2 separate regions of the Homo sapiens genome follow, and region 2 is linked to region 1. Evidence: fine-mapped expression QTL. A gene starts in region 1. The other region holds a variant in brackets. All regions are shown on one strand. Distances are from middle to middle.

Region 1 (16,171 bases):
AGATTCAAACTTAAGGAGAAAAAGGGAATGCAACAAGTTCAGTTGATAGAAGAAACCCCACTTAGTATTTCTTTGTGCAAATCTAGGGCAGAAACTACCCAAATGCTAAAACTTACAATCAGTTACTCTTTAAACTAAAATCACAAACTTTGAGAGAAAAGGAGAAATAACCCTCAAAACAACAATCAAAAAAAGCCCACATTTTTAAAGCTCATAAAACAGCTGAGCACACACAGAAGCAACCTGGATAATTTAAACATCCAGTTTAGTATGCACTACCACATATTATTAACGTATTCAAAATGCTTTTGATTTCAGGAACACTTTTTGGTCCAAATATTTTAAATATTATGTTGAATTGACTGGCTAAAAATGAAAGTGTCAAGTAAAGGTATCACAGTGGAACAGCATTTTTAAATACACCCAAATCCGAAAACAATGCTGAGGGAAGGGCGGCTTCCTTACACTACTAACAAAGGAAGGAAAGTGAATAAGGCAAATGGTCCACACTGAATGCTCTTACTCATAACAAATACATCTAAAGTTCAACCTAGATGGTCTTTTTCATCCTCCTGTATGGTACACACTGTACAAGGGTATAAAAGCACCACAAGGTGTGGACGTGTAAGTGGGAAATTGATAGAGAAAAATGCACTGTGCTGAGGTACCCTATAGCACTTGATCTTTGTGGAATGATAATTACAGACTGTTTAGCCTCCTGCTTTTTCTCCAGTTTAAAGCTATGCTAATACTTTCTATGATGCTGATTATTTTCATGTCCATTTGTAAACTGAGGCAGAGGAAACTAAGATGTAAGATCTCAAATATGTTAAATATTGGTTTCTCATGTTACATGGACATGAGAAGGGAAATAAATTATAGAACATTTTCAATTTGTTTGATGGGTATTTGGGGAGACTTTGCTGTGTGCTTGGTTTGGTAATAGGTTATTTTTTATCTGTGGTTATTTTTGATAGGATATTAGATAACTTAGGCTGTGTTCAGAAAACAGCTGCACCTTTTATCTCTAAAAAGTCAATTGGTTTAGTTAAATATCCTTTTCCACTAAATGGAGCAGTTGTTTGACCTCTAGGAGACTTAGCTGGAAAGCACTGCATAGCTGTTTAAAGAGACAGCAGCATGCTTAACCACACACACTATTTGATTACATGCAAGTAGAATTTTTTTTGTAGTGGTCTATCTCTGGAATACTTTGCTTACAAAAAATTATAGTCTAAGCTTCAAGCAAATTTCAAAGAAAAAGTGATTGTGGACTCTGTTTGCTTACAAAATGTTATATTCTAATCTTTAAGCAAATGTCAAAAAGTGGTTGTAAACTGTTTCCAGTCTTAAAAATCAATTCCACAAATCATCGAAATGATTGAATTTGTGAATCATGCATAATATTGTATTCTACGTCTGGTTAAACCTTGTGCTGTGGTGTCTCATTGCAACTAAGGAAAAAATAGAGGTAGGATAGTATGGTGAATAAAGATGGAACCTTTTGTCCAGACAGTTCTAGATTTAAATCCTGGTTTTACTGCTTATTAGATATATCACCCATTGGTAGATTAGTTAATCTTTTTGAATGTCAGTTTCCCCAATCCATTAAGTAGGCCTATAAGGCATTTGACACATATTGTGCAATCAAATGGATCACAATGATTACCATTCAACAATTATCTGTTGTGTCCACTATGTACCAGTCTGCTCTAAGTACTTAGACTACAGATAAAAAATAGACCTTCTCTGCATGGAGTTTGCATTCTAGTGAAAGAAGACAGGCAATAAACCCCCCAGAAAAGTGTGTCATATAGTATTACAGAACATGACAAAGGTAAAAAAAAAAAAATAGAGCGAGATGAGGAGGATTCGTAGTTTCAGAAAGAGGGATTTGTGGTTTTGTATAGTGTAGTCAAGGTAGCCTCATTGAGAAGGTAGCATCTCGGCAAAGACCTAAGAAGGTGAGAGAATGAGGCATACAGATTTCTAAGGTAAGGGAGTTCCAGCACAGAAGAGAAGTCTAGGCTGGAGATATAAATAAATGCATGAATCTTAGCATCTAAATGGCATTAAAATGAGAGTAAATGAGATCTTGAGAGTGACTGGAAAGGAATAGAAAAGAAAAGATCACCAACAACTGCAGCTTTAGTGCACTGCAATTTTAAGACATTGAGAAAAGGAGAAAGAACCAGCAAAGAAGGCTGAGAGGGAGAGACTAATGACATGGAAATAAAATCAAGAGAGGTGTCCTGGAAGCCAAGTGAAGAGAGAAGGAGAGATTAACTCTGCCCAGTGTCATGGAGAGTTCAAGTAAGATAAGCATCTGTACTGTAGATTGTCTTGAAGCCTACTATTTTTTCCTCATTTACTCTTTAAACCATAAAGCTCAAATTACCTCACAATGAAATGGGTATGTTATAGTACCAACAAATCAAAATAATTTTTATTTGATTTATGTGGTCAGATTTTTTAATTTGATTTATGTGGTCAACCTACTCACATACTATTTGTTACTTGCCTATGGCAATTAAATCCCTTCCAATGGTCTACTAAAGAATAAAAGGTCGATGAAAAACTCACCTTGTCCAGTGATGTGAGAGAATAAGGGTCAAGGATTAAACAAAAGAAAATAGAAACACACTCATTAGCACATGGTAAATCTGAAAGTGAAGATTTTTCTAATGGTTCCTTCAGAGATGTCGTATAAAAAATAAACACCGTATTCTTAGCGTGACACTACTTCTGGCCTCCAGAAGTCTGAGAAGTTATAAAGAGAGAAAGACGGGAAGAAAAAGAGAGAGAAAGAAAGAGAGAAGAGTGAGAAGGAGAATGAGCATCCAGTTTTTTAACACGGGATCTGGTTTCAAAAAGGCTCTAGAGATGTTTTCAACATATACATCCTGCCTTCGGCATCCTTCAATTTTCTCCTGCCACTATTTCATTAGATTTCATTTCTTTGTGATTTTCTATCTGAAATTTCCAATTCAAGCTCCTATTTTGTACTTCATTTGGAACCTATCAAATTCTCATCCTTCTCTCCAGTTGAACACTCTTATTGAAATTTCTTGTAGATTTCTTCCTTATTGGTCATTCCCATTGCCATCCCCCTTGGATTCTAACACATTTGTATTAGCACCTTAAACACTTCTCCTCTACTTACTTTGTCCTTCATGTTCATCCAGTTTGTGGTCTCTGAGTTCAGACCTTCTGAAGGTGAGGAAGAACACTGGGGACCTTTCCTTTTGTGGAACATCAGCAATTTTTTAGTTTCCTTCTACAGGCTCTTTCTACAGACTCTTTCATAGTCACCCTTCCTGATGGATCTCTTTACCTGAATTTTCCCTCCTTCTATATGTTCTGAGACAGTTGGCAGTTTTATTTCCCTAAAATATGAATCTGATCTTTTCTCTCCCACTTTCCCTGAACATCAAGTTCTATGTATAAATGTATATCTCTATCAATCTCTCTAATTTCTCCTTTCTGCTCCAGACAGGACACTCTCCCTTATGGACCTCTAACACATTGTTTCACCCCCTCTCATGCTTAGAAATGGCTTCTCTGCTTCTAAAGTCTACTTTCTCCCTGCAGTCGCTTTCCTGCAACTCACATTAACCTCAATTTTCAATTCATGTTGCACTCACTGCTAATCCCACACACTACTATCATTCACTATGATATACTTTTCTGGGCTCAAATTGTGCAATAGTTAGCACTTTGTTTCATCGGAATACAACAACGGTTGGTTTACTATTCTTTTGTCTTCTAATTGTTTTGAGCACGCGTCTTATCTCTCCAGCCAGACAGTAAATTCATTGTAAGAAGGAGCACTGTCTCATAATCGCTTATATCCCTACCTCCTAATATAATGTCAACTAATTGACTGTAACTTTTAACTCTTGCCATCCTCGTTTACACTGGCTGGAAAACAACAAAAATACTTGGTAAAAGTAGTTCAATAAGATAAATGACAGCAGATAGTGCTCTATTATATATCTATTTTACAAAGGCTGAATTTGGTCATTAATATAAGGTTAATATTTAATGGAAGCTAGTTCGCTAACATATACTGCTTTTTGAACTATAATTCTGGATGTTTTGTGATCCTTCCGTAGTTACAATAAATTTTATAAATCCACCTGAGACTTCTTTCCTGAACTCCAAATTCGTATATCCAATTGCCTACTCAACATCTCCATGTGGAGAACCAATTGACTTTTCCAAAACTTGGTATCCATCCTCTCCCTCAAAAGAAAAAAAAAAAAAAAACCTAGTTCATCAACCTCACTATCTCAATTGATGGCGACTTCTATTCACTCAGGCAAAGAGTGATTATGAATCCTCTCTTTCTCTTAAACCCCTATATCCAATCCACCAACAGAATCAAAAGTTATCCATGGTACAACCATGGTACAACCAAGGTGGTAACACTCTCATTGTTACCACCTTGACACAAGCCACCATCATCTCTCATCTGGATTACTGTAATAACATCCTATCTAGTCTTCCTGTTTCACACTTGCAAAACACTCCTCTGCTTAAAACACCTCAATGCCTTCTCATCCCACACAGACTAAAAGCTAAAGTCCTTACAATGGCCTACTGGACCCTGCATGAATTGGGACCTGTTACATTTCCAACCAAATTTCCTGTTAACCCTCTCTTAGTCCCAGCTCTCTAACCACACTAGCCTTGTTCATAAAACATGGCAGGTATGGCCCACCACAGGACATTTGCACAGGCCCTTCCTGATATGCTTTTCCCATAAATATCCTCATCACGAACTCTCACCTCTTCTTCAAGACCTTGCTCAAATATTGCCTTCTCACTGAGGCTACCTTAGTGACCCAATTCTAAATTGCAACATTCCCTGCCTTAGCCATCTTTATTCTCCTCCCTGCTCTATTTTCTTTCCATAGCATTTATCACTATGGCTGATGAGAAAGTGCCTCTCAGACATTGAACTCCAGGAGCATAATTGACCCAAGAGTCCCAAGCTGTTTCACTCTGAAATCCATTCCTATGTTTGCTTCAAGGCTATGCTTCCCAGGGGCTACTCCCAGCCAGTGACTGAGCATGGCAAGAATGCTAAAATTCCTGAGAAACACTGGACTACTTTGGTTGCTGACAACTGATGTGTCTCATCATGTGTTTATTCATTCATTTAGTTGACAATACTAATACTTGTTAATTTTTTAAGCATTTGTTATTCATTCTGCACATATTTATTGAGAACCTCTGATGTGTCAGGCACTGTGTTAGGTGTCTGAACAAAATTTCTCCTCTCCTGGAACTTACATTCTGGTAGACAATAAAAGATTAAGTAAACAAAATACAGTAGATGTGGAAATGATGATGTTATTCTGGATCCTATAAGAAACAAATGCCAAGATGGGTTAAATGTACAGAATTTTATTAGGAGAAATGACTGTATGAGAGAACATGGGAGGACAGGCAGAAAAGGCTGGAGCTGGACATGTCTAAGAGGCAGGTGAAAGAGAAAGGGAGGCGAAGTTGAGTGGAAACATCCTAATCTGTATTGCAGTCCAAGGGAGATTGTCAAGACCATCAGAGCTCTGGCTCCAGGATTCCACTCAGGTCCCCCAGATTTTCCCAGCTCCAGCCTTTTCTGCCTACCACTCACATGATGATACCAATCAGTTGTTGCAACTCTGCTCCCTCCTAAATTCCCATCCTCTTTTTTTAAATCTTGTCCTCCCCTACACTAGCAAAATCTTGGGTTTTCCTCTAGCAGAAATGAGATTTGAGAGGTAAATTGTTTTTAGGAAAAGATCCAGACTAATAATTGGATGACTGCCCATTTGTTCTAGGCACCAAATATGCAATTCTGACTGAGATATTTATCATTACTGCTTTCTTGTCTTTAATTTCAGCCAGGATCTACAAATAAACATAATCAGAAGTCTTGAAGGTTTGATTTTTTTTACACTTAAATATGTTTCCAACAGTAATCAAACTTGGCACACATCCAAACAATCCTCCCATTCTCTGGTCTCCCTAAGTATCCCTTCTGAGGGTGTATGAGCAAGGACAAACTACTCTCAAGTATAATTTCAGACTCTTAAAACATGGGTTTCACCTTATAGTGACTGACAGAATGAGGGCTCTGTGGTTGGGGAACTCCAGTCAACAATGTGGGGAAACCTCAGTAGGGCCAATAAGTTTCTCCAGAGGACATTCCCACACCGTTCTGCCTTAGGCTGTTACACCCAGCTGTAGTGTTCTAGGAGCTAGACAGAGAAGGAGGCTGGGGGTCCAACCACTTCTCATAAAGACTGACTTAACCTTCAGCCTGTGCCTCTCCTTGCCCCGTGTCCTTGGGCAGTCCTTGATGAATGCCACTTATAAAGTCAGGCAGCTGGTGTTCCAATCCTGGCTTTGCTACTTACTAGCTATATGGCAAATTACCTCTCTGAGCCTGTTCCCTCATTTTTAAAGTAGGGATTATAGCACTTATCTCTCAGCACTTTGCAAGTATGCATTTACCTGTAGAAAGAATGCAACAAATATTAGCTATTATTATTACTAATATCAAAACTGCAAAGGAAATTAAACCATATGTTCAATGTTTGGGTTGTCCTTTTAACCTCTTCAGCTGAATGTTGATATGAAAGCGCTTAATAGCATTCAAACACATAATAATAAGGTAGTTGGTAATTAGGATTTACTTCAGCAAAATTTAATTAAAGAACCTGTAGGGAAAAGAAAACAGACAGAGCCAATTGTACAGCTTCCCAGCCTCTGCTTTGACCTAAGAGTCTCACTGGGCTTGCCTGCCTTTTTCTAAAGGATGGGCGAATATTCACACAGTGCCGGGCTCCAGGCAGTTACCAAATGTCTCATCACATTTTCAAAGGCTCACTCCTCTCTCTTGCGTAACCGGTGAGGTCAAAATGGGCACCTTCCTGAAAGCCAAGAGTGTCATTTCTGAACAGCGTCCAAGAAAGAAAACTGCATTCCATAGAAATCCAAGTCAAGCAATAACAAAAGGTGGCACTTGGTGCTTAAGCCACACTAAATACCTTGGTGGGCCAACTTCTTAATATAGTCACATTAACACCTTTGATTTCTCCATGACCTAAAGATTCCAAAGTTTGCAACAAAGTGCTGAGCAGGGGGGTCGGGGGTGGGGTGTAGACGGGGGAGAACGAACCAATGTAAATTTACCACTACATGAAGTTTAAAGTAGCTATAGATTGTTGTATTATTATCAAATCCAATCAGTGGAAGAAAGGCAAACAAGTGACTTGGCACTTCTGCCTCAGTCAAGGTAAGGCTCTCTCCCCTAGAGCTAGCAAGCAGGTAAACGAGCTTTGTACAAACACACACAGACCAACACATCCGGGGATGGCTGTGTGTTGCTAGAGCAGAGGCTGATTAAACACTCAGTGTGTTGGCTCTCTGTGCCACTCCTGGAAAATAATGAATTGGGTAAGGAACAGTTAATAAGAAAATGTGCCTTGCTAACTGTGCACATTACAACAAAGAGCTGGCAGCTCCTGAAGGAAAAGGGCTTGTGCCGCTGCCGTTCAAACTTGTCAGTCAACTCATGCCAGCAGCCTCAGCGTCTGCCTCCCCAGCACACCCTCATTACATGTGTCTGTCTGGCCTGATCTGTGCATCTGCTCGGAGACGCTCCTGACAAGTCGGGAATTTCTCTATTTCTCCACTGGTGCAAAGAGCGGATTTCTCCCTGCTTCTCTTCTGTCACCCCCGCTCCTCTCCCCCAGGAGGCTCCTTGATTTATGGTAGCTTTGGACTTGCTTCCCCGTCTGACTGTCCTTGACTTCTAGAATGGAAGAAGCTGAGCTGGTGAAGGGAAGACTCCAGGCCATCACAGTAAGTCTGCATACAGTTATAACTCATTAACGTTGTTACTTAGAGGAAGGCAGACCGTGGCCGGCTGCCCCTGTCGCTGAGCCCTCGCAAGTGGAAAAACAGAACTGTCAGCCTTCATGGACGAGTCTCTGTTTCTCTCTTAACCCTCATGACCCTCTGTAACTCTGGGGCTTCAGAACCTGAGTGCAGGGCAAACGTTCTTGATTTTCAAAAAGGCTGTGCCTGCATTTTAAACAACAATCAAAAGCTGTTAAGGCAGTCTGATTAACTATCTTTCACACTCTGTGGTGTACCTTAGAAATGCAGTTTTTCCTTAAATGTCCATTTGACTGGCATTAGATAAAAAAACAGATCCCCAACTTGGAAACTTTTTTAAGCTATGAATGCCTCAAAAAGTTAGAATTTTTTTTAAAGAGAGAAAAAGAAATTTTAAAAATGACCTGAAACTTTATATTTGTAGTGTGGTAGCATGTTCCAGAAAGCCTAAAATAATTAAAATGAATGTTAATATACGTAATTTAAGCATTAAACAAGAGAAAACTAGGTAAAAGCACGTATCAGATTAATTCTAAGATATCAGTTTCCAGCAGAGTCACAAACTGAATAAGATCCTGATAAAGGAATGCAGTGCATGCAGTGGATTTGGAAAATATTTTGTTAATACCGAGAAGGAAAATCGTACATTTTTTATGTTTGTTCCGGGAAAAAGTCAAAGCCAGAAATAAATTACTTTTCTTAAATGATCCAGCTTTCTTTTTAATTTTATAAAACCCTGTATTTGGCAGTAACTTGGAAATCTGTGTCACAATCATTTATCCCTAGCTATAACTTTTGATGTAATTGTTTTAAGAAGAAAAAGATCTTTGGAAAGCAATATCCCAATTTCTCAGCATTTTCTGCCACTGACATTAGGTATAGGAAAAAAATGAGTACTTTTTAAAAACTGATGCTAGATCAGGGATTTTTTGTTGTTGTTCTTAAAATTTTCATTGCATAACTAATTATGCTAATCCTAATTTAGATTTTTTACTAATTGATACAATATCTTAGTTTCACCCAGGAAACATTCAGTAAATTGAAATGTCTTCTTAGCCAATAGTAAGACACCAGAAGTCTATTGATAAGGTTGGCACTTTTCCATAAAACAATGCTTTGTTAAATGTCTAGCTTCTAATTATTACATTTTCCTCTCTTCAGAAAACCTTGGTCGGGATTATTGTTTGTTTTGTTTTGTCCTTTTTTGTCATTAAACTCAGCCACCATCTCAGCTGTCCTGCTTTAAGGGACAGGAACTCGGCTCTGCTCTGTTGTTTTTGGCATGGGCCTTTTACATTACAGCTGTTGTCTAAAGGTTACTTTATTAGACTGCGTGAGTTGTGTGGTCACAGGCTCCACTATTTCTAATGCTTATATCTCCTAATTAGCTAATTGAAATAGACAAGTAGACCCTTGTTCTGAATTTGCCTCTTTCAGTTGGGGGACACCCTCGCTCAAGCCCTTTTTCCCTCCAGTGTACCTTATAACTCTTACCAAAGCCACACATGTTCCAAAGATATGGCTGTATACAGTTATTTCTAAGGCTAGGAATCTTAGTCACTGAAGGTTCCAAACGCAAATAGAGACAGAAAATCCTCATAATGTCTTAAAAGCCATCAAGAGAGTAAGTAGCTTCCTGAATATGCAGATGTATGCTTTTTTGATGATTAAAAAAATTTTTGGATTATTCCATCAGCCTAAATATATCCCATTAGAAAGGATTAAACAAATCTCCCAAGTAAGATCACAAAGTAATTCTAGCTTGGAAGTAATATACTTGTATAAAGGTTGTAGGGAAAAAACTGGAAAAAGTTTATGGGAACAAATTTCTCATAAACCAGCCTACACCTCACCAGGCTAAATCCAGTCACATTTGTCACCACCTAGAGGAAAAGTGGAGCAGTGGTGTGTCCATGGAAACAACACATCCACTCTCCTCCCTCTTGGACGCCCTGGGACACGCCAGCTTTCCTCGCCCTCGCCCTTGCCTTGCCCAGGAAGCCACCTCAGCTAGTCTCTTTCCCCCTAGGAAAATAAAATCACAGAGTATGCAGAGAGTTTGCAAGAATTATTTCATTTTTGGAAATGCTTAAGCCTCAGAATCTCCAACCTAGACTAAAACTCAGAGAGTATCTTCTCATTTTAGCTTTTTCCTAGTACTTACCTACACTGAAATAATTTTTTGTATACTTCAAGAATGAAATCAGAAGGCAATTCCCCAATGCACCCAGACATAGCAACACATAGACCTCACTTTGGAGGAAAAAAAAAAAACTTTTACACTCTAGGATCTATTTGCTTTTTACATTAAAATTCGTTTCTCCAATTGCTGGCTATAAAATAAAATAATCTTCACAGTTGTATTTATTCTACCTGGTTTCAAGTGCCTAAAAAGTCATTATTTTTCACTGCAAAGAACTGAAAAAATAAACGTATATACCTAGAATTTGACAGAACAAAGATCCAAGTGCCAGTCTTTTTCTTTTTCTCAAAAAAAAAAAAAAAAAGGTTAAACACATTAAGTAGTTGAAATGTGACACTTAGGCTCTCAAATTGAAAACTAAATTACTATCGTGATGCCATTCATTTCTCATATCAGATCAGTAAATTGAATTTTAGATTAGTCAGATGTCTTCTCAAAGATTTAAAGAGAATAAGAGCAAAATTATGAAAGTATGCAGAAACAATTGTTCAAGGGTAGATACTTCAGTTTGGGTATACCAAATATAGATTCTATTTTACACAATTACTTTCATGTTCTTCCTTAATACTTTATCCATGCACCAACTCTTCCCTTACTAAATTAATGGTCAAAGTACCCCTTTGCCTAGAAGTTCAGTTTTCAACTATAATTTAAACACAGGGCTGCTTAAAATTAATTAACTATTATGTTTGATCTTTAAAATGTCTCTTGAGGCCCTTTTCAAGTCAGTACACACTTGAACAAATAGCTGATCTTTCTACAAAAGGTGAGCTAATTGGAATTCAATAGTATTTTGAAATAGACTAGTAATTTGAAATTCACCTTTAACAATACTGGAACTGAGGATACCAATGACTCCAGCATTCTCGAGAAGAGTGAGATGAAGAAGCGTGAGATGAAGGACTGAACGTACCACTGACAGAGTTATCCCTACAGAGTTACTGTCTGAAAGTGAACGTGGCCCACACTGAAGAACAACGAAAAGGCCCAGGGGTCTCTCCTCAGAAACACAAAGATTCCCTTAGGATGAGTAACATTCCGTATACTCTTAACATCTCCTCCACAGCTAATACATTTTCTTACCCCCATGCCTACAGCGACATTGGAAAATACCATTACAAATATGGATATGCTCAAACTGGAAAATTAGATCTTAAACTGTCTTGCGATCATAGACTCAGTTCTATTTGAAGGATGAACTCAGAGGAAGTTTAAGAACTAGAATCCAATTTCAGAGAACAGACTCAACTGAGAAAAAGAGAGTAAGAAGAAAGCTGACATTTTTATTCTCCTCCAGGCTTACCTTTAACTGTAAGGAATGTGTGTTATCAACACAGTCTCTCATGCCTTTATTCAATTAATGGTTATTAGGCACCTACTATGCACCAAGCCTTGTGCATTTAAATGAAAAGAAGTGAAATAAGGGGAGTCTGGAATGTGAGGAGTGGGGATGGGAGTGCATTGTAAGTTAAAATAGAGTGGTCAGGATGGGGTTCACAAAGAGGGTGACGTTTGAGCCTAGATGTGAAGGAGGTGAGTTCTGTCAAAAGTTAGACAATAAAAATAATCACAAGTACAAGCACCTGCCTAGGACTGCCTCCATTTGGAAAGGAGCCATATAAAGTCCTGACACTGGAATTTGAGCAACAGAGCCAGATTTTGCCGGCCAAAGCTGCTCATAATGAAAAAAAAAAAAAAAAAAAAAAAAAAAAAAAAAAGCTCTCACATTTCCCCTGATCAACTCCCTACTGCTTTCCACTCCCAAATACCCAAATAAATTTTTCTTGACTTGTAAATATAGGAATTTAAGAGACATGGAGTTCTTTACATAAAACAGAAATCTCCACAGTACAAAGACCAACATTAAAACAAGAACATGAGCACGGATGGGTTCTAGTTATTTCTTTAGCACATGTTCCCTGTTACAAGTGTCTCTGGGCACTCTACCTCATCTTGTTCCCTTTTTGTCAATATCTGGGCTCTTCTAACAGTCAGTAAGACAGTTAGTGACCCAAAAGCAAGACCTGCTGTGTGATTTGTGGGGCCCAAAACACAAGGGAATTGTGGTGGCCCTTGTTCAAAAAATATTCAAAATGTCAAGGTGGTGACAACAGAGCTTTGATCTAAGTGCTAGGCCCTTCTGAGCATGATGACCTGGGTGACTTCACAGGTCACAAACCCAAGAAGTCAGCCCTGCTTCTGTATTCCAGACTGGCCATACATATTTTTCCTTATTCGTTCTATCTGAACAAATAAGAGAGTAAAAACAAGTGTAAACTAGTCTGTGTCTTTAACAAAGGCATACCCTAACACGTGTTTGGATCATTGTATTATTTAGAGCTCTAAGGAATTCTTAAAGTACTAGTGGCCAAAGAATGCATAATGCCCCATTGTTAACCAACATACCTCATGATTAAGACATAGTTAGAGGAACAACTTCTAATTTGTCAGGAGCTTCCAAAGAAATTCACATGAAGATGGTACATGAAGATGTAGCAGTCTTCTAAATAAAAAAGTCCCATTCTGGAATATTCAACAATGAAACCTCAGCACAATTTTCCACAGTGCTGTACCAAGATTACATGTTTCTTCCAGAGAGGGAAAGGTTTCTTCAAACAAATGTGGTACGCCACACTTCTTTGCCAAACATAACAGCCCACCCATAAAGGACACCATGTGATGAGGTATAATAGTTTTGATAGCTCATTAAGGAAACTGCTTTTTGATAACTGGGGAAGGTTTTTCCACTGTGCAACAAAATGATAATGCTACTTTGCTAACTCCTCTACTGACAAAGATCCCCATGAACTTTCTGAACATTACTGGATGGTTGAAAGGAAAAGCTGCTTCTTTAGAAAACTGTGATTAAAACAAATTAGAGAATAAGCATCTAAGACTAACCAGAGTATAAACAAATGCAACACAGTTCAATTCTAAAACTGCAATAGGACTTCCACTTTTTAATCTGCAGTCTCTAACTACCTACCCTCTCTTAAAAAGAAATAAGAATATTTTAATTTATTTAAATGATAGTAATGTCATTTTGGGAAGAGACTCCATGAAAATTTACCACCTTAAGAAGTTCCCTTACCCAGAACCCTGTGGCATGCACATTTTCCTAAAACATCATCAAAGCAGTTTGAATGAGATCTATACTTAAAGTTTTTACATAAAATCCCAGGGACTGAGAGGATTCAGTCAAGCCACTTAAGAGGTAGAGCTAGGTTATCCTCAGGAGTTCTGAATGGAACTCAAAACTAGCTTCTGTCCTAAGCATCAAGTTTTCAATCTATTAAATGTATCAGTGATTGACACAGGATGATGTAACATAGCAAAGTGGGCTACAACAGCTATTCCTAATCAATTACGCTAACAACTCTGGAATAAAATGGACATCTCCTAAGAAAAAGAATTGTGAGATTTCTAACAATAATAACAGTGCCTATTCTTACATAGCATTTAGGCTATGAAAAATAAAACTTTCACATCCATTTTATCTCATTTGTCCAAGTAGTCCTATGAGTATTTTCAAAAGCATATGTTATCATTCCCATTTTATGGCAGAAAGCCTAGGCCAAGAAAAGCTAAGGAATTAGTCAAATGTCGGAACTTGAATCTATTCCTCTGCTCATCAGATTTTCTGACCACAGCATCATGACAAATTTTTATAAACATCAACATCACACCCCTGACCCCTGTTCAGGACTTCCGTAGATTTCTGGCTGGGCATGGTAGCTCATGTCTATAATCCCAGCACTTTGGGAGGTTGAGGCAGGCGGATCACTTAAGGCCAGGAGTTCAAAACCAGCCTGGCCAACATGGTGAAACCCTGTCTCTACTAAAAATACAAAAATTAGCTGGGCATGGTGGTCTGCGCCTGTAATCCCAGCTACTTGGGAAGCTGAGGAACGAGAATTGCTTGAACCTGGGAGGCAGAGGTTGCAGTGAGCTGTGATTGCGTCACTGCACTCCAGCCTGGGTAACAGAGTGAGACTCCGTCAGAAAAGAAAAGAAAAGACAGAAAAGAGAAAAGGAAAGGAAAGAAAAAAGAAAGAAAAGAAAGGAAAGGAAAGGAAAGGAAAGGAAAGGAAAGGAAAAGAAAAGAAAAGAAAAGAAAAGAAAAGAAAAGAAAAGAAAAGAAAGAAAACTTCCTCAGATTTCTATTGTTCACTCTTATTAATACAGTTTGACGTGGAGCCAAGAGAAGAAACTATGGAGGGTCTGCTTTGCTTAACCACATTTTCTAACCCAAAACAGTTCTCCACCTCTGCAGTCTCTTCCCACCTTCCCCAGTTTGCAAGGAATAGAAGTGGGCAAGAAGAGACTGTGGTGTCATTTCAGAAGTATTTGTTATTGTTTTTAAGAGGTTTGGAACAGAATCAAAGTCATTTTTCAGAGCACCTAATAGTTCAGGCCCCTTTTTCCTCTGCCTTCCTCCCCATCCCACTTCCTTTACGTAGCCTCTTCCCTGCAGCCAGGAATTCTCAAGACAAAGACATCCTTGCATCTTTCACAGTTCCCTCAACAACGAGCTCAACACTAGCTGGAGCACCAAAACAAAACAAAACAACAAAACAAAAAAACTGTCCTGGGTGAGTGAATGAATGAATGAACAAATACAATCAAGCTGAGAAAGGGTGAAAGCTACTGATTGGCTGGCCTGCTGACAGATTTTTTTTCACTGAAGACCCGGCCAAATTTACCATCACCCCTTGATTATTCAGGGGTCTGTTTTGTGTTTGTTGTTTAGCCTGGTTTGGTTTTGTTTTGTCACTATTTGTTAGAACAAACAAGATAGGGTAGACAAAGGAAAAAAAGAGTAAAACACACGCTGGATTCTGTTTAGAGGTCTGTTAGAATGTGTTGTAAGGTTGGGAAAGAAGACTACAATTATTTGATAAATGAGGTTTAGAAAATTTGTGCTTTTTAATTCACCCCATAAATAGTAGTGATAACCATGCCAAATTTCCATGACTAACTTAAGAATTAGGATATTTCAAAGCTAGATGCAGACATAATTATTGGAACAGAAGAAAATGTAGAAACTTCTTTATCCACGTCCTCACTCTCTTTACACCATGCCCAAGTTCACCCAGCTTCTCCTTGAGCACTTCAATATCACATGGATCGACACCCCCCAAAAAACCCTTTTCCATTTGAGAACAGCTCTCTGTGTTAAGAGTTCTGACATAATGTACCAGAATCTGGTTGCCTTTAACTTCCACCCAATCTTCATGACTCCTGCCACTGAAGCTATACAGTTTTGTTTTCTGGATTTCAGTCATTCTTCACAGACTCATTCCAGACAATCTCCAAAATGTCAGTGTAACTGTTAGAAGTTGGTGCTAAGGGTTGATCAGAACTCTGATGAGTATAGAGACCTTTGGTGCTATAATGTCCCTTATTTGAGGAATTGTATTTCTACTGATATATTTGGAAAGCAATAAGGAAGAAAGAAAATAATAAAAATAAAAGATAAAAAAGCATCACCCCTGGAATCATAGAAAATCAGGTTCAACACAAGTTCCACCACTCGATCAATCACGTGACTTGAGAAAGTTAATGAACTCTCTAGTTTTCATCTTCAGTGTCTCTAAAGTTAAGAATTGACTTGAAAGTTCAGTAAAGAAGCCAGATACACAATGAATATATAAAAAGCAGTAGCTTTCTGAAAAACAAAAATTAATCAGAAAATATAATGTGAAAATATCCTACCCTTAATAGCTATAATATTAAATTTATAGCTATTATGTTAAAATTTAAAAATAATACTAGTAAGGAAGTATGCCAGATTTAGATGAAGAAATGTTTGCATTTTTATACCTACTAAGGAAATGTGCAGTATTTATGCCACAAAACTCTACCAAGTGACATACTATATGTGATGAGAGACACACACTATTCCTGAAAGTGCAGTTTTAAAACAGAAAAGCTATCATATACTTCCAAATTTATTTCAAGTTTAATACAGTTTCAATCAATATCTCTAAGGAGGTATTCTCATCCACAATATAAATTGTGGTCAATTTATATTACTAAACATGTAAAAATAATCCCAATTTTATATGAACT
Region 2 (16,171 bases), 32 kb after region 1:
CTGCTTTGTTTAAGGAATGATCCTAAAAAGATGTATTTGCAAAAAAAAATAGTAAAGAATTTGTTTTCTTGTGACCTATAGAGGCAGGTTTATCTGGTTAAAAATATAACAGCAACAGAATGTTCCAAAGCAACACACAGAGAAAAAATATCTATGCCTTGTCTGTATTAAGCAACCTCCCCTACTGCCCAGCATTATAAAAATCACATTGCCAAAGCAGCTTTACCTGATAATGGAACGTTTTCTTCTCAGATGTTTGTAAAGCTGCTAAAAAAAACAAAAACAAAAAAACAAAAAAACAAATCAGGTGCATGTTTTTAAATTCAATCTTTCTCCTAAACAAGTACCCACAGTGCTTGAGAAGCTCTTATTACCAGCTAAATCAGTACAATTTCCTGTTAGCACTGAGTAGCAATGGAGCCAACTGATGAATTTGAACTAGGGAGACCCACTCACAATCCCTAAGCAGGGAAAGTAACTCAAACTCTGAATGTGATTTATCACTTGACTTACGTGCCTGCTCGAGGGTGACATTTGCCACTCTGCCAGGCCCCCTCAGCTAGAGGATAAGATTTTAATGGGAACATCAAAGTAGAAATATTGCTATTACCGTGGAGTCCATAGCAGGGCCAGACTTTGCCCATGAACCTTTCTTTCCTTCTACTTCTAAGGCGTTGTAAGATGAACTGAAATAGCGTTGCCTCTGGCATTCAAATCCCTCTTCTGCTGACATAGTACACAGGCTTGGCCATGTTCTTTCATTTCTTTGAGCCTCAGTTTCCTTGCCTGTAATGTGAGACAGTTATAGCCACTTCACAGGACTGCTGTGAATACAGAGTGCCTGACACATGGAGGTGTACAAAAAATATTAAATACTAGTCCTTACTAAAAGGTGAAATTAGAAGAACAACACTGCACGGATCTTTATCCAGGTATTTTTATTTTTTGGCCAAGTTCTCTCCTTTCTTTATGCTAGTACAAAGAGTGTTTTTCTTGGAGTAAACTGAGAATACCAACCAATGAGGATTCTTTCCATTTGGAAATAATCTATGATTTTTTTTATGGCTTAAAGTCTAGAATGCTACCATAGAGGTTAATTTTTGTGGAACATTTGCTGTGGACCAGGCATTGTGCTAAACATTTCATGTACATTATTTCATTGAGTTCTCACAACTACCCTATTAGGTAGGTAACATTTAACAGATGAGAAAAATTGACACTTACAGAGGCTAACTCACCCTAAGTCATACAGCAAAACGTAAAGAGCCAGGATTTAAAACCTAATTAAAAGTCCTAATCATAAAAATAAAATTGCACCTCAGAGCCTGTAGAAATTTTTTACAAATGTTAAATGCTGTAAACTCTATACTTTTATAGCATTTTTAAGTTTCCAATCTATGCTACAATTTCACTTTTATGTGTACCACTTTATGTAGACATTTACCTGAATATTTAACATATTAAAGACATTCAGAGGGTACCCTGACTCACACATAACCTTTAAGTAAAGCATATCTGCTTATTCATCCTGTCGTTGTCTCCTCCAAAGAGAGGCAACATTTCAGAAAATAAGTGGGTTTCCATGGTTTCTGTCTCTGAGTTACATTCTTAGCTTTCAAACAATATTGTGGAGTATTTTGCCTTGTGCCCTGATTAATACCTTAGGAGGAAATGTTCCCAGGGGAAGCCTATATTGAACGTCTCCTTCTGAATCACTTTGCTTAAATAGAGTTTCAATTTGCCTCCCAAAAGAGCCCTGCGCTTACTGCGACCACTGAACCATTTACTGCCTGATTGTAGGCACAGGTGCACTGATTTTTCAGTCCAAATATCCATGTGCACAAATTTATACCTGGTTTAGAAATCTTGTCCTAACACTTTCCTTGCTCTCCTCTATCCAATAGCCCACACCCAAAATGACACCCCCAGTAAGTCTCCATAGGAGGTATGCCCCCAGCAACTTGTTCACATCCTGGGTTCTTCTTTCCTATCCAGCTGCCCTGCAGTTGTCCATGACCTCCCTTAGCCAAACTGCCCTGTGCCAAGCTCCCGGCCAGACACTCTACTTCTTGAACTGTGTCCAAAGACCTCTGACTTTAATTGGAGCACACAGAGCGCCTGACAGAAATGTCATAAGCATGAAATGTAAAAGGTCAACTGCCGAGGAGAATGATGCAAATACACTGCATTCCCTTTGGGAAGGATAAGCTACTTATGATTAAATGTTCTCTAGCACGGATTTTTTTTTTAATACTCCAAAGTGCCCTTCTGACCTTCTGCCTTCTTTTAATGAACTTTCATTTGTCCCCCAAATAGTTAGAAACCGCCTTCCACAGATGATACAAATGGGCAAAGGTGTATGTGAAGCCTTGGATGTCTGTGTGACTACGTGTCATGAGAAAAGCCAAGTGGGCTGGTACAGCAGCTATAGCCACATCCCACATAACTTAAGGAAAATTCCTCCACAAAAGGAGCTGAAACCCAGGAAAATGCATTCTGCTCAATATCATGTAAAGCAATAATTTACTCAATTAACTAAAAAGAGAGCAGGCAAAATTCAATTCAAAAGAGAACCCAAAACATTGATGTAGAAATATAAAAGTTAAATTTTTTTGTTACTGGTTATCATTTATCAAAGTTTATCTTATTATTATTTCCATCCAAGTTTAACCCCTACTTAATGCTTTTAACTACCTGTGCAGGTCAATTGTACCTTAATGAAACTAATGTTTCCTCAAACACGGGTGAGATATGCTACGTGAAAAATACTACATTCTAGATGTTTCTGCCTTCCTACCCTAACCCGTATCTAATACCACATAGCAGAGAGATAGACAAGCTGCTCTTTTATGACAACATAAGAAAAAAAAAGAGGCGAAAAAAAACTCTACCATTTGTTTCTTATTAAATTTGCTGTTGCCTAGAGACACTCAAGAAATTATTCTAAGGTAATTACATGAGTCAAAATCGTTCCAAGCATGTTTTTCACTCTCCATATTTGACTAATTGGTTTACCAGATTTGTAATAGTTCATCTGTTGTTGTTTTCAATTTCCCAGATAGTCTGATTATTTTTAATTCAGGAGCTTCACTTTTAACAAAAAAAAGCCAAGTAAACCAAACTTAAAAGCAAAAAAGGGAAGAAGTCTACCCACTCCAACCCTCCGAAACACACACATACAAGCCCCTAGTACAACGCCTAGCACATAGTAGGAATACCTGTGAATACATAGCTTAATAAGTGAATGAATGAGTAAAATAGATGACGTATAGATGAATGTTAGTACTTAAAAATACTACCTTTCTAAGAGGACCAGCTAAAGAAGCCTAGATAATGACTTGAACATTAATGAACTGAAAAGGAAAGCCTTGAAACTCTTTTAAAAATAAGAAAAGAATAAACATCCAGCTATTTTGAGTCAAGGGCAAAGTTAAATGGTAGTAGTGCCCTGGTTTTTTAAACAATTATCAATGGCATGTTTTAACATCTCACCAGCACTTTGTTTACTTTCTCTCCATGTTCCCTTCCTCCATATGCCCTTTTATTTCCTTATCCCGACCTTTCAGCATTCATTCTTGCTCATACCTGCCAATCTCATCTATATGTTAGTAGAAATAAAGATTAAATGGTTACTGGCCCCCACCATGATAAGCTGAAAAGTAGATTGCAATAAACTCTGAGGGTCCTCCCTCCACTCCACTTCAATTTATTTAACAACAGCTACTCTTTATGGAGCACTATTCTGAGAATGACAATTCTCTGAGGGAAGTCTAATTAGCCTCATTTTGTACATAAGGACACTAAATCATAGAAAGCTATAAATCTGGCAACAGTCATGCCAGGAGTCACACATAGGTCTTTCTGACTCCAGACCCTTCCCACCAGACCTCACACTGCTTATTCTTGATTCATTCCATGAACATTATTGAGAACTTGCCATATGTAAGTCTTTGAGTCTTACAGAGAAGATTCCATATAAACTCCCACCCAAAAAAAAAAAAAATTTGTTTTTCTCTCTTTAAATCCCTTAACTTTTCAAAATGCATTTACATTTATTATCTCACTTCAAATGGTATTCAGTGCCTTGAAATACAAATATGACACCATTAGCAGAGTTGTCATAAATCTTTGGCTGTGCTGACATGAGTAAAGACAAAACAAAGGAGCAACTGAACAATCCAGAAAGTGGGAGGTGAATTAGTTTCAGTGACCCGTTCTCCAAGCCTTGGTCATAAAGGATGAATGTTCAAGAGCAGCGACTCATTGTAATAGAGAAAGGATCTGTGCTGCCTGCCACCAGGCCTAGACTTCTGCATTCTGCAGGAGAGTTTCCCGTGACTAATTTTACCAGCTCAAAAAACTTCCACACCCACCCCCTTGCGATGCATCTTTTGTCTGCCATAAGGCAAATGTCACTTCGTCCATTTAGACCACCCAAGGTTATCTGATTCTTGTTGGTTATTCTATGTTTTATTAGGATTGGAATTTATATTTGTTGATCTTCAAACAATAGAGTCCTGTTCCTTGGTATCAAATATGAACAGTTAACATCAAGAAACAAAGCAAAAATGAAGTAGATAAAAAATAGAAAATATAGTGACTGCTGTATAATATAGTCAGGGATAAATGTTAAGGGTTACCAAGGCACAAAGCCAGGAATTATTTCTGAAAGGAAAGAGTCACTATCTACATCATTGAATACTTTTTGCCATTTCATTATATAATTACAAGTAGTTTATTCATAGAAATGTTTTTCTCTACAATTTATTTTTAGGAAAAGAAAAGAGGCTTACCAGAATCATGGATAAGTATATCTTCAGTTAACTTGCCATGTCCTGGCCACAACAGTAGTTGATGGTCACTTGGGAAACTCATGACAGCTGGGTACAAGTCAAATTATTACAATTACTTCACTCCTATTAAATGTTTGGCATGTACTACAAGGTCCTCTACAAGCCCTAATTTAAAAACACACACACCTAGTTTCTGTCCCACCAGAGCAGTTGAGAAGCCCATAACAAACCAATCCTTCATATCACATCAACCTTGAGACTATATGTTTATTTGCATTCATTTGAAAATGACATTTGTTTAATAACTTGTGCATGATAGTGGCTGATTCTCTGAAAACCAGTTTGGTTTCTTATTTTTCATGGCAAATGAAACCCTCAATTTGCAAAATATTGTTCTGATTAAGAGGGTTTGCTTTTCTACTAAATCACTCTCTTCTAACGTTGCATGCCTACACGGCAGTTTCAAATTAGGATACTATCATCTGCCCATAAGATAATTATTAATATTTGCAGAGTTATATTAGGAGATGAGATTCACCCATGCAAAAGCTATTCACATATAATCAGTCAGCTTTCTAAACATCTGCTCTGTTCCCAACCATCAGAGCAAACTAATGCTTGTTTTAATGTCATTGTTCCCTTGCCTCTCTGCTTCTTGTTATCTTAAAACTGCTGCATTGTATTGTTTGTCCTATTCTTAAATGCTCAGGATTAGAGGCAATAGATCTGACTTGTGGCAAACTTAGTGTTTGCTGTATGCCAAATGCCCTTTAATTCTCTGGCATGCTTACCACTAGCATGTGACAGTTTGCACTAGTAGGCTAGATCTTCCTTATTATACACATGCCCTTTGACAATGGCTGGTTCTAAGGCAGTTCTTCTTCTTCCTTTTTTTTAAGGACACCAGCCATATTGGATAGTTTTTGTTCTCACCTACTGTCTATGCACTGAATTATTCTTCATCTTTTTTGATACGCACTTTTTAAAAATTTTTGTAGATGTAGGGGGTACAAGTGCAGTTTTGTTATATGGATACACTGAATAGTGGTGAAGTCTGGGCTTTTAGTGCAATCATCAGCCAATATATTCATTGTATCCATTAGGTAATTTCTCATCCCTAATACCCCTCCCACCCTCTCACCCTTCTGAGTCTCCAGTGGCTAGTATTCCACTCTATATGTCCATATATACACATTACTTCATACCCACTTATACGTTAGAACACGTGGTATTTGTCTGTTTCTGAGTTATTTCACTTAAGATAATGATTTTATTTCAGCTTAGTGAAGAAAATATGCCTGACATATAATAGGTCCTTAATAAAGGTTTGTTATATTTTGATGAAATTTATTAAACCCCAACTTTAAAAAGTAAAAAAAGAAAAAAAAAGCTCACCTTCTAATATATTACATGACCCTCAACTTTATTAAGAAAATGTAGTTTGGCACTACCATTGGCCAAATTATCTACAAAGATGAAATATCTTTAACCTCTGACCCATCAGTAGTAATTTATCTGCCTATTACATATGACTAACACACTGCAGTCAAGATAACTAAAGTCAACTGTATGTACTCAATAATAGCCATTGAATTTCCAGAGAGATTATTTTAGATGAGTTATGATTTAAAAAAGTAAAAAGACCTTTCATTTTTCACTGCAAACCTTAACCATTCAGTAGTAGCCAGCTGTCAACACATATCATGCCAGATTTGATACATTTTTTAGAAACACATAAATCCTTTAACCACTGAGAGCAAAGACTGATTAATTTTTCTGTTTTTCTAGTTAACAACCTGAAATGCAAGATACTAATGAGTAATTCTGCAAATCAATGAAAAAAATTATGAAAAATCTCATAAAATGTGTCACACTACAATTCATTCCCCATAAAGTTACACAATAGTCAGCATATGGGTTTTGTCACTTTAAAAGGGTCCTCAAGAGCAGTGCCTTAAATGAGATAGAAAGGTTCATTTCTCTCACATACATCAAATCCTAACTGGTAGACATTCAAGCAGAGGAGAGCATCAATGTTACATGAGGTTATCTAGAGGCCCTATTTCTTTCTGCCTTGTTGCTTTGCTACCTCCTAAGGGATGCCCTTGGCTATACAGTCAAAGCCAGCTCACTACCTCATCTGCATTCCACTTCAGGAAGGGAAGATAAATGGAGGACAAGCAGTTCAATTTTAATGGCATGACCTGACAGTTGCAGATGTCAATTCTGCTAATACCCTGTTGGCCAGAATTTACTCACATGGTACCATCTGAATGCCAAGGACACTGGGAAATGTAGTCCATAGCAAGGTAGCCAGGAAGTCGTATAAAACTCAGGGCATTCTATCACTAAAAAGAACAAAAGGAGAATGGACTGGGGATGGGGTGTGGAGAGAGGAAACGACAGGTTGTCAAAAAAGACTAGGATGTTCTTTCTGCTCACATTTACTAAATAGACATCATCCTCATACATATTATTACAACTCTTCCAATCATGCTGGATCACTGTTGAGATTTTCTGTTTAGATCAGTATTTGCAAGGACAAGTGTGTCCCTGAATCTATATTAGTACCATGCTTGCTAAAGTTGCAGATCAAACACCCAAATGGACCTGCTAGATTTTTGTCTTCCAATGG[G/T]GTTGTCACAGGTGGTCCTCCTCTCTCAAGCAAACTAAGAAGGAGAAAAGTGTAAGTCCTTTTCTATTTTTTTTTTTTTTTTGAGACTGTCTCACTCTGTCACCCAGGCTGGAGTGCCGTGGCATGAACTCACTGCGACCTCTGCCTCCCAGATTCAAGCGATTCTCCTGACTCAGCCTCCCGAGTACTGGGATTATATAGGTGCGTGCCACCATGCCCAGCTAATTTTTGTATTTTTAGTAGAGACAAGGTTTCACCATGTTGGCCGGGCTGGTCTCGAACTCCTGATCTCAAGTTATCCACTCGCCTCAGCCTCCCAAAGTGCTGGGATTACAGGCCTAAGCCACCACGCCTGGCCCAGTAACTCATCTTTACTAAGGAACTCCTCTACATCAAGCCCTGTTGTAGGGGTTTATGAACAATTACCTCAATTAATTCCTTAAGACAACCTTTAGTGAATACTACTATTATTCCCTAAATGAGAAAAAAAGCTTGGAGGGGTTAAATGATTAAGCCAAGTGTATTAGCTTTGAGATGGGTTCATTTTCTGTTTCCATGGGTAGAGCTGTAAAAAGTCTTTTTTTCCCCTGAGAAAGTGGGCTTTCACAAAAAAACTCACAAAATATAGGTAAACCACCAGCTGTTTCCTGTTCTCCCAAGATTTAGTGGGGAAGAAAGGGAAGAGAATCTCTAGGGGAGAATCAAGCTAGAATTGCTCACCACTCTAGGCAGAATTCAATACTTATCAGAGGCAAAGACACTCTGAGAGCCTGTGAGTCCCAAAAGAAACTGGATCCAGCTGGACATGGTGGCTCACACCTGTAATCCCAGCTTTTAGGGAGGCCAAGGCAAGGCGGGAGGATCTCTTGAGCCCAGGAGTTAAAGACAAGCCTGGGCAATACAGGGATACCTTGACTCTTAAAAAAAAAAAAAAATCCTTCTTTATCTAGCTTGGGGAATGTTGGGGGTGGGGGTTTGGTCCTAGCACTTCCATCGACCGGCCTCAGAGGCACATCAGTAGTGGCATAACACCTGCTGACTCAGGCCATCCCAGAGAAATAGCCATTGGACCCTCTCTTTAGGTGTAGTCCTGGCTTTTAATAAGAGAGTTTGGGCTACTGAAACGCAAGTAATTCATCAGTCCCTTCAAAGTATAGATAAGAGCCAGTCATAAACTTAATTTCATACCTAGCATTGGTAGTTACATTGAAACTGCAGTAATACAATCAAATTGCATTAGCCAGCTTTATATTTAAGACCTACTGCTTTAATTACTTTAAACAACACAGTCTTGTGTGGAAGCAAAGAAAGTCTTGCTATAAAGTGGCATTAGCTTAGGAAACCCCAGATTCTTTGAAGGAGACCGTTCTAAGAACTCCTACCAGAACCAAAGTCAAGCAGCCAAAAGGAAAAAAAAAGATAAAGCCCGGACTTCAATCCTTGTTAGATGGACTAACCCACTGAGCAGAAAAATCCCCAGTACAGAAAAATAACCCTAACGAAGATTAGGACAGAAATATTACCTTTGTATATAATGGGTCAACACGTTTACACACTCGTGGGCCCCAGCTATCATTTCAATCTTCACTTCCTTCATTATCATAGAAAGTAAAAAATCCCTTAATACTGCTGAGCTAAATGAATGTTGTGTCTAAGCTCCTAAGAATCAATTTTTTTAAGTTTTCTTTCTACAGTGGCTAATTGGAGAGGAGTTAAGAGTTCAGACTCTGTAAGTAAAGATCTGATTTCAAATTCCATCCTGCCTCAGGCTGCCTGTGAGACTCTGGGCCGGTTGCCTTTCTAGGTGCCCAGCTTGCTCATCTGTCAATTGGAACTAACAACAGTGCTCATGGGGGTTGCTGTAAGGACGAAATAGGCCAGTGCCTGGTGCAATGGAAATATGCAATATGTGTTAAATGTTATAAATGCTAACACATGAAGTACTGAAAGGTAGGATGATGACTTTTGAATTTTGGTTTGTGTGGTTTTTCCCCTCATGAGTTCCAATCTGTTTGGCCCCTAATGGCAAACTCTATCAGGTTGTGAGTCCTTGTTAACTCCACCAAAAGCTGAGAGAGATAAATGGACCCTTAGCAGCAGAAAAATTGCCTTCTGAAATAACCTCTTCCTGATGCATCCAGCATTTATGTGCTGTCCTTTTTTCCAAGACAAAAAATTGCATGTTGGAATTGGATTGGAGACATTATCTCGTGATGATTAAGGGAGGTTATTACTACAACAGTTCATGAAATGAAAGCTACCTGCTTTTACCCAGGGAGCTCTTGAAAATAACCCTCTTTTTCCCCAGTGAATAGGCAAGGAAAAGCAAGATTCCAATAATGGATAGCATTACAAATCCTTTTTCATGTACTCTGCTTATCTAAATTGGCACATGATGCCTGCCCACCATCTCTCAGAAATTGTGAGAGGTACTGACTCATCCATCAAGCCCCACCTAACAGCCTGGGAGGCACCAAGGAGGATATTTCTCTTTCTCTGCTGCCTGTTCCTCACCAAACTGAATCAGCATTTCAAGGAGCTCAATTCCCATTCTGAAAGGTAATACCTTCTAAAGATGGGGACGGCAGCACTTATGGAAATTCTAACCCATCAGCTGAAAGATAGGCATGTGAAAGTTAGAGAGTTACCCCACAGTAACCTCCCCAAAAGCTCTCCATTTGAAAAAATTTTAATTTTACATATATATGTATATACACCCACACATAAACACACATACATACACATATATGTGTGTATATCTATGTACATGCATACATGTATGTGTATATGTGTGTATATATATGCATATATATATATATTGCCTTCTGGAAAACCTCTTCCTGATGCATCCAGCATTTATGTGCTGTCCTTTTTTCCAAGACAAAAAATTGCATGTTGGAATTGGATTGGAGACATTATCTCATGATGATTAAGGGAGGTTATTCCTGCAACAGTTCATGAAATGAAAGCTACCTGCTTTTACCCAAGGAGCTCTTGAAAATAACCCTCTTTTTCCCCAGCAAATAGACTATATATATACATATATGTGTGTGTATATATGTGTGTGTGTGTGTGTGTGTGTGTGTGTGTATGTATATATATATATGTATAGAGCCCGGACTTTAATCCTTGTTAGATGGACTAACCCGCTGAGCAGAAAAATCCCCAGTACAACAAAATAACCCTAAGGAATATATATATTTTTTCTATAGTGGCTAATTGGAGAGGAGTAAGAGTTCAGACTCTGTAAGTAAATATCTGATTTCAAATTCCATCCTATATATTTTCCCAATACTTCATTTATACTTGCCAAATTTTTTCTCTTCCCCAAAACTACCTTTGGGAAGGGATTAGGAATGAGTCCCTAATTTAAGTCTTGCATTGTTTAAGCTTTAAATCAGGGCCGAATATTCTCTTAACTATGAATGGTCATTGAACAAGGAAAAACAACAGATACACAAACGTATATGTATCTTGGAATGGGAAGGAATAATGAGGAAAAAAATAAAAATATAAAAGAAATGGATATAAACAAATTCCTTATAAAGTACCTATCAAGAACTTACACTATACCAGGCATTCTTTTAGGTATCCAGGATTCCTCAACCTCAGCACTATTGACACTTTGGGCTAAATCATTCTTTGTTGTGAGGAAACTGTTCTGTGCATGACAGGACATTCAGCACCATCCCTGGCCTCTACCCACTAGATGTCAGCAGCACCCCTCACCCTCGCCAAGTTATGAGAAGCAAAACTGTCTCCAGACTTTGCCAAATATCCCCAGGGAACAAAATCGCCTCTGGTTACGAACCACTGTACTAGATACACAAAAATTGCCCTGCCTACTAGTTGCAATTTTTGTTTTATGCTCCTTAAGGACAGTCAGTCCTCAAAAACTCAGTGCATTATCTGGTGTACAGGTTGTCAAACCTCCTCTTCTCCATTGCTGGGCTACTGCTGACTTCTGACCAAGTGGAGGAGGTTGCGGGGGTTCTGGGAGCATCCAGTTCCTTACTCTCAGTTATGCTTTCTAAGTCTCTCATCATTTCCATTAGCATTCTGATCTTTTAGAAAGCTTTTCTAGAGCAGCAAATCTCTAACATTCATCTGATATTTATATTGTCCATAAATATTTGAAGTATCAAATCAACATACAAAAATAAGAAGTCAAGTTTTGCATTGAAGTGGAAATTTTAGGAAATGTTCTACATCAGTAGGCATCTCCTGTTAGAGGTTTGTGATTCTAAGTAATTAGTACCAAGATGTTTCCTAGTTATCCTTTTCAACTCAGAGTTGGCTGTGACTAAGGGATAAAGAATGGGAGGGAGGTGTTTGTTTATGTTTAGTTTTCACAAACATGTCATGATGTATTGTGAGACCACAGCGACTTATTAATGCAACTTTCATCCAGTGACTTGAAAACCTTCAAAAATATTCATTAACAGATACGCTGATGAGGTTTGCAGGCTTTCAACCTCATATTCTTACCATATTAGTCTAAAGAGATTCTTGGGATGAATCATATGGCATTACATTACCCACGGCTTTATCTTCAGAGAGAAACAACAACAAACACCAGTGCATTTCAAAATTCCCTAAGGTGTCATTGGCCAAGCAGACCAGGAGCTTTGTCTCTATGCCCCAGGAAAAGAAAGGGGCAGAGACAGGAAGAAACTAGCTGAAGTCATCGGGCTCATGCCTGTAATCCCAGCACTTTGAGAGGCCGAGGCAAGCAGATCACTTGAGGTCAGGAGTTTGAGACCAGCCTGGTCAACATGGTGAAAGCCCATCTCTACTAAAAATACAAAAATTAGCCAGGCGTCGTGGTGCACTCCTGTAGTCCCAGCTACTCAGGAGGCTGAGTCAGGAGAATCGCTCGAACCTGGGAGGCAGAGGTTACAGTGAGCCGAGATTGCACCACTACACTTCAGCCTGGGTGACAGAGCAAGACTCTGTCTCCAAAAAGAAAGAAGGAAAGAAAGAAAGAAAGAAAGAAAGAAAGAAAGAAAGAGAGAGAGAGAGAGAGAGAGAGAGAGAGAGAGAGAAAGAAAGAAAGAAAGAAAGAAAGAAAGAAAGAAAGAAAGAAAGAAAGAAAGAAAGAAAGAAAGAAAGAAAGAAAGAAACGAACACCCTATGAAGTTGTTAACATTGACCAGATCTCTAAATGTTGAATTGCTCCAGATTCAGGCCTTGGAATTCTTATCTCCTTCACTTTCTAGGGAAACTTATCCACTCCTGTGGTGATAAATACCAACTCCCAAATGTATATCTTCAAACCCAGACTTCTCTGAGCTCCAGTCTTGTATATCCAACTGTCTTCTCCATATCACACTTGATTGTCTCAAATTTAACACATCCCCCACAAATCCCCTTTCTTCTCTCTCCCAGATTTCTTCAGCCAATTGTATTGCATGTTTCCAATTATTCAGGTCACAAACAGTGGAATCACCTTGACATCTCCCTTTCTCTTATCCCCTGCATGTAATCATCAACAAATTCTGACAGCTCTTTCTGTCAAATATTTCTAGAATCCAACCACTTCTCACCCTTCTACTGGCAACCAACCTGGATTACACCATCTTCATCTAGATTTTTAGCACAATTGACCTCCATGTTTGCCCCATCCAGTCTATTTTCCACACAGCAGCCAGTGTAACTGTTTACATTTCAAGTCATAGCATGTTTCCTCTCTGTTCAAAATTCCAGTGGCTTCCCCAAAGCCCTTCCATGCACAAGGCCCTGCCTATCTGGTCATCTGCCTCCTCTCTGACTTCATTTCACCTTTCTACTCTCTTGGCTCTTCCTTCGCTCTCTATAGTTACTCTTCCATCTCTCTGGAGCACACTCCCTTTGAAACCCTCATGTTTCCCGCTCTCACTTCCTTCATGTCTCTGCTCAAATGACACTTTATCAGAGAAACTTCCCTCACCACACTGTGTGAAATAGTGCCCCCTCCTCAGGCTTTCTCTATATTCTTTATCTTGCTGTTTACAGCCCCTATCCTGCTTTTCTCATCAAAAATATTTTTTCTTCATAAATAAATGTGTTTATGTGTATATATATGTATGTACATACATCTGCAATATATACATATTTGTATTACACATTTATTAATGCAGGGATTGACAAACTATGGCCCAGGACCAAATCTAGCCCTGGCCTGATTTTGTACAGACACAAGCTAAAAATGGTTTTTATATTATTAAAAGGCTGTAAAAGAAAAAGGGGAAAAAAGATGAATAAGAAACAGAAAGCATATGTGGACTGCAAAACCTAAAATATTTGGCATCCGGCCCCTTATAGAAAAAGGTTGCCAGCCCCTGTATTGTCTCCCACTAGAACATAAACTCCTTGAGCTCAGGGACTTTGTTTTGGTCACTGTAAGATCCCCAGCACATAGAAGAGTGCCTGGTTCAAAGTAGATGCTAAGTAAATATTTTTAAAAGAATGAATGAATAAAGACAATGAGTTTTATTGTTTGTTTGTTTGTTTGTTAGCCCAGATCTCACTCTGTTGCCCAGGCTGGAGTGCAATGGTATGATCATGGCTCACTGCAAGCTCGACCACTCGGGCTCAAACAATCCTCCCACCTCAGCCTCCCATGTAGCTGAGACCACAGGTGTATGCTCAGCTAATTTTTTTTAATATTTGTAGAGACTGAGGTCTCACTATGTTGTCCAGGCTCATCTCTAACTCCTAGGCTCAAGCAATCTTCCTGCCTCAGCTTCCCAAAGTGCTGGATTATAGGCATGAGCCACTTCTCTCAGCCCAACACTGAGTCTTAGTGAGGTCAGGTGACTTGTCTAAGGTCACACAGGAAGCTGGCAGATGAACCAGGTTTCAAACCCAGGTCCACCTGATTCCACAGCTAGGCCCTGATGTGCAAGAGCTGCTTGAAGCAATGATTTGAACCTTCTTGTTTTCTACCAAAAGGCTTTCCTTTGTAGACTGTCTCTAACAGGCAAATTAGGTAAGCACCCTGTGGGACAGGGGATGAAAAAAGAAAGACATACAGTATGTTGCAGAAAACTTTTAAAAATTATATCATAACATATTTACATCTGATATCAACCATATTCAATGTACTTTCATATACATCATCTCTTAGTGTCACCACATATCTGTCTGTATATGGTAATGAGCGTAATCTGTAATTATGCTCATTACACACATTACAAAACAGAGTTTCAGAGAGGTTAGGGGAACTGGCTTTCACAAGAAATGAGTAGCAGAGACAGAATTGAATCCAGATTTATCACTTTTAGTGCAGAGCTTTCCCCTTTACCAAATTGGACCAACATATATCCCCACAGCTCTGCTGAAGGGTAAAAGTGCTGCCATGGATGTGGAGGAATTTTAATAAAATGGCAGTCACAGTTCAGTCACTTCTAAGAAACCAGGGGCTACTCCATTTCACTTAGAGGTCTGTGGCATACAAGAAAACCTCCTCAGTTATAAACGGCAATCTACCAATGGCCAGAGGCAGCAGCAAAGTAAGAACTTTGAAACTGAAGCAATGAGCAAGAGAGCTGTCAAGCTGACCACATCTTGGGCTTTTACTGGTGTGACAATAGTGCAGCATTTTTGAGCTGCCAGGCCCATGACCATCTTCAAGAAGGAAGCCAAGAAAACTGACAGTTCTCTTAGCTGACACGAATATCCACAGCTGTCACCTCCTGGACCAGCTGCTGAATCTAATCAGCCATCCTCTGAGGCAGCTGACTTTAGAGCCTTAGTGTATTTGGCTGAGAAACCATGTGTGTTACGTGGCTGCCAAGGGCCAGCCTTCTGCGTGATTGCCAGTGTCTCTATGTTTTTATAGAGGAGAGGTCACGATGCTGCCCCCTGGAGTTCATTTGAATCTGACACGCAGCTGTACACTGGCCAAGATACCAGCTCAGAATGCTTGCAACAGTCTAGTTTCAAATGTCTGTCTCTTTGTTGCTGTAAGTTCCTTATGCTGTGTCAGGCCATGTGTGCCCTACCCCCCGCCCAGAAAATGTAGCCTCTATAAACAGCAGCAGTTGAAGCTACTGTACTATATTTGGTCCATTTCTGCATCTCTTCACCCTCCTCACTATAATATGGCCCAACTCTTAGGAAACTGAAATTAAATCAAAGTGTCATTTTCAATGGTAGAATATGCAAGAATTTTAAGTACTAAATGACTATGATTATTAAATCAGTTTAATAATTATAATGTTTTCTTCAAATAATTTATATGATGACTTGGATATGAAAACCTGATGAACTACATAATAACTACAAATGTACCATTCCTTTCGGTACAACTTTAAACTTATGTCTCTGTATTTTAAAAATCTCTTTTATTTGGAAATAACATTAGTAATTGCAATGAAGAACATGGAGCAAAGGTCAAATGCTTTACCTAATATATTCCTTTGTCAAAAAAAGAAAACTTGAAAATCGTTCAAAGTCGGGCATTAGGTATCTTCCATATATTAAGTATCATGCTTAGTGTGATGCTAAGTGTGACATTATATTCTTAGAAAGTGTCTGGCTACTTACATGCATATTCCAAGGAAACTTTATATATGGGGAAGACATATTTGAGAACTCCGCATTTGTACTGTGTTAAGCAATAAAAAGTATACCTTTTTGTTGTCAGGCTTGAGAAAGAGATCCAAGATCTTGAAAAAGCTGAACTGCAAATCTCAACGAAGGAAGAGGCCATTTTAAAGAAACTAAAGTCAATTGAGCGGACAACAGAAGACATTATAAG

Direction of the effects. Positions count from the first base shown, and alleles are read on the strand shown. Sizes are in standard deviations (SD) of each study's normalised expression.
In carriers of allele G in region 2, the expression in tibial nerve of the gene that starts at base 7,611 in region 1 tends to be lower than with T alone (small effect, 0.38 SD a copy in GTEx).

Evidence for each region. PIP is the estimated chance that this variant, and not a neighbour inherited with it, causes the effect.
Region 2: its variant is fine-mapped to the expression of PALMD in tibial nerve (GTEx, PIP 0.97). The same link has a PIP of 0.9 or more in left ventricle.

The regions. Positions count from the first base shown.
Region 1 is chr1:99,638,503-99,654,673 of GRCh38, forward strand. It overlaps PALMD (palmdelphin), which reads left to right and starts at 7,611. Exons shown (of 8, transcript NM_017734.5): 1 at 7,611-7,860. The coding sequence starts at 7,816.
Region 2 is chr1:99,670,619-99,686,789 of GRCh38, forward strand. It overlaps PALMD (palmdelphin), which reads left to right. Exons shown (of 8, transcript NM_017734.5): 4 at 16,058-16,171. Among named protein-coding and RNA genes, the nearest start is that of PALMD, 33 kb to the left of the region's middle. The variant G/T (reference allele first, on the strand shown) is at 7,429.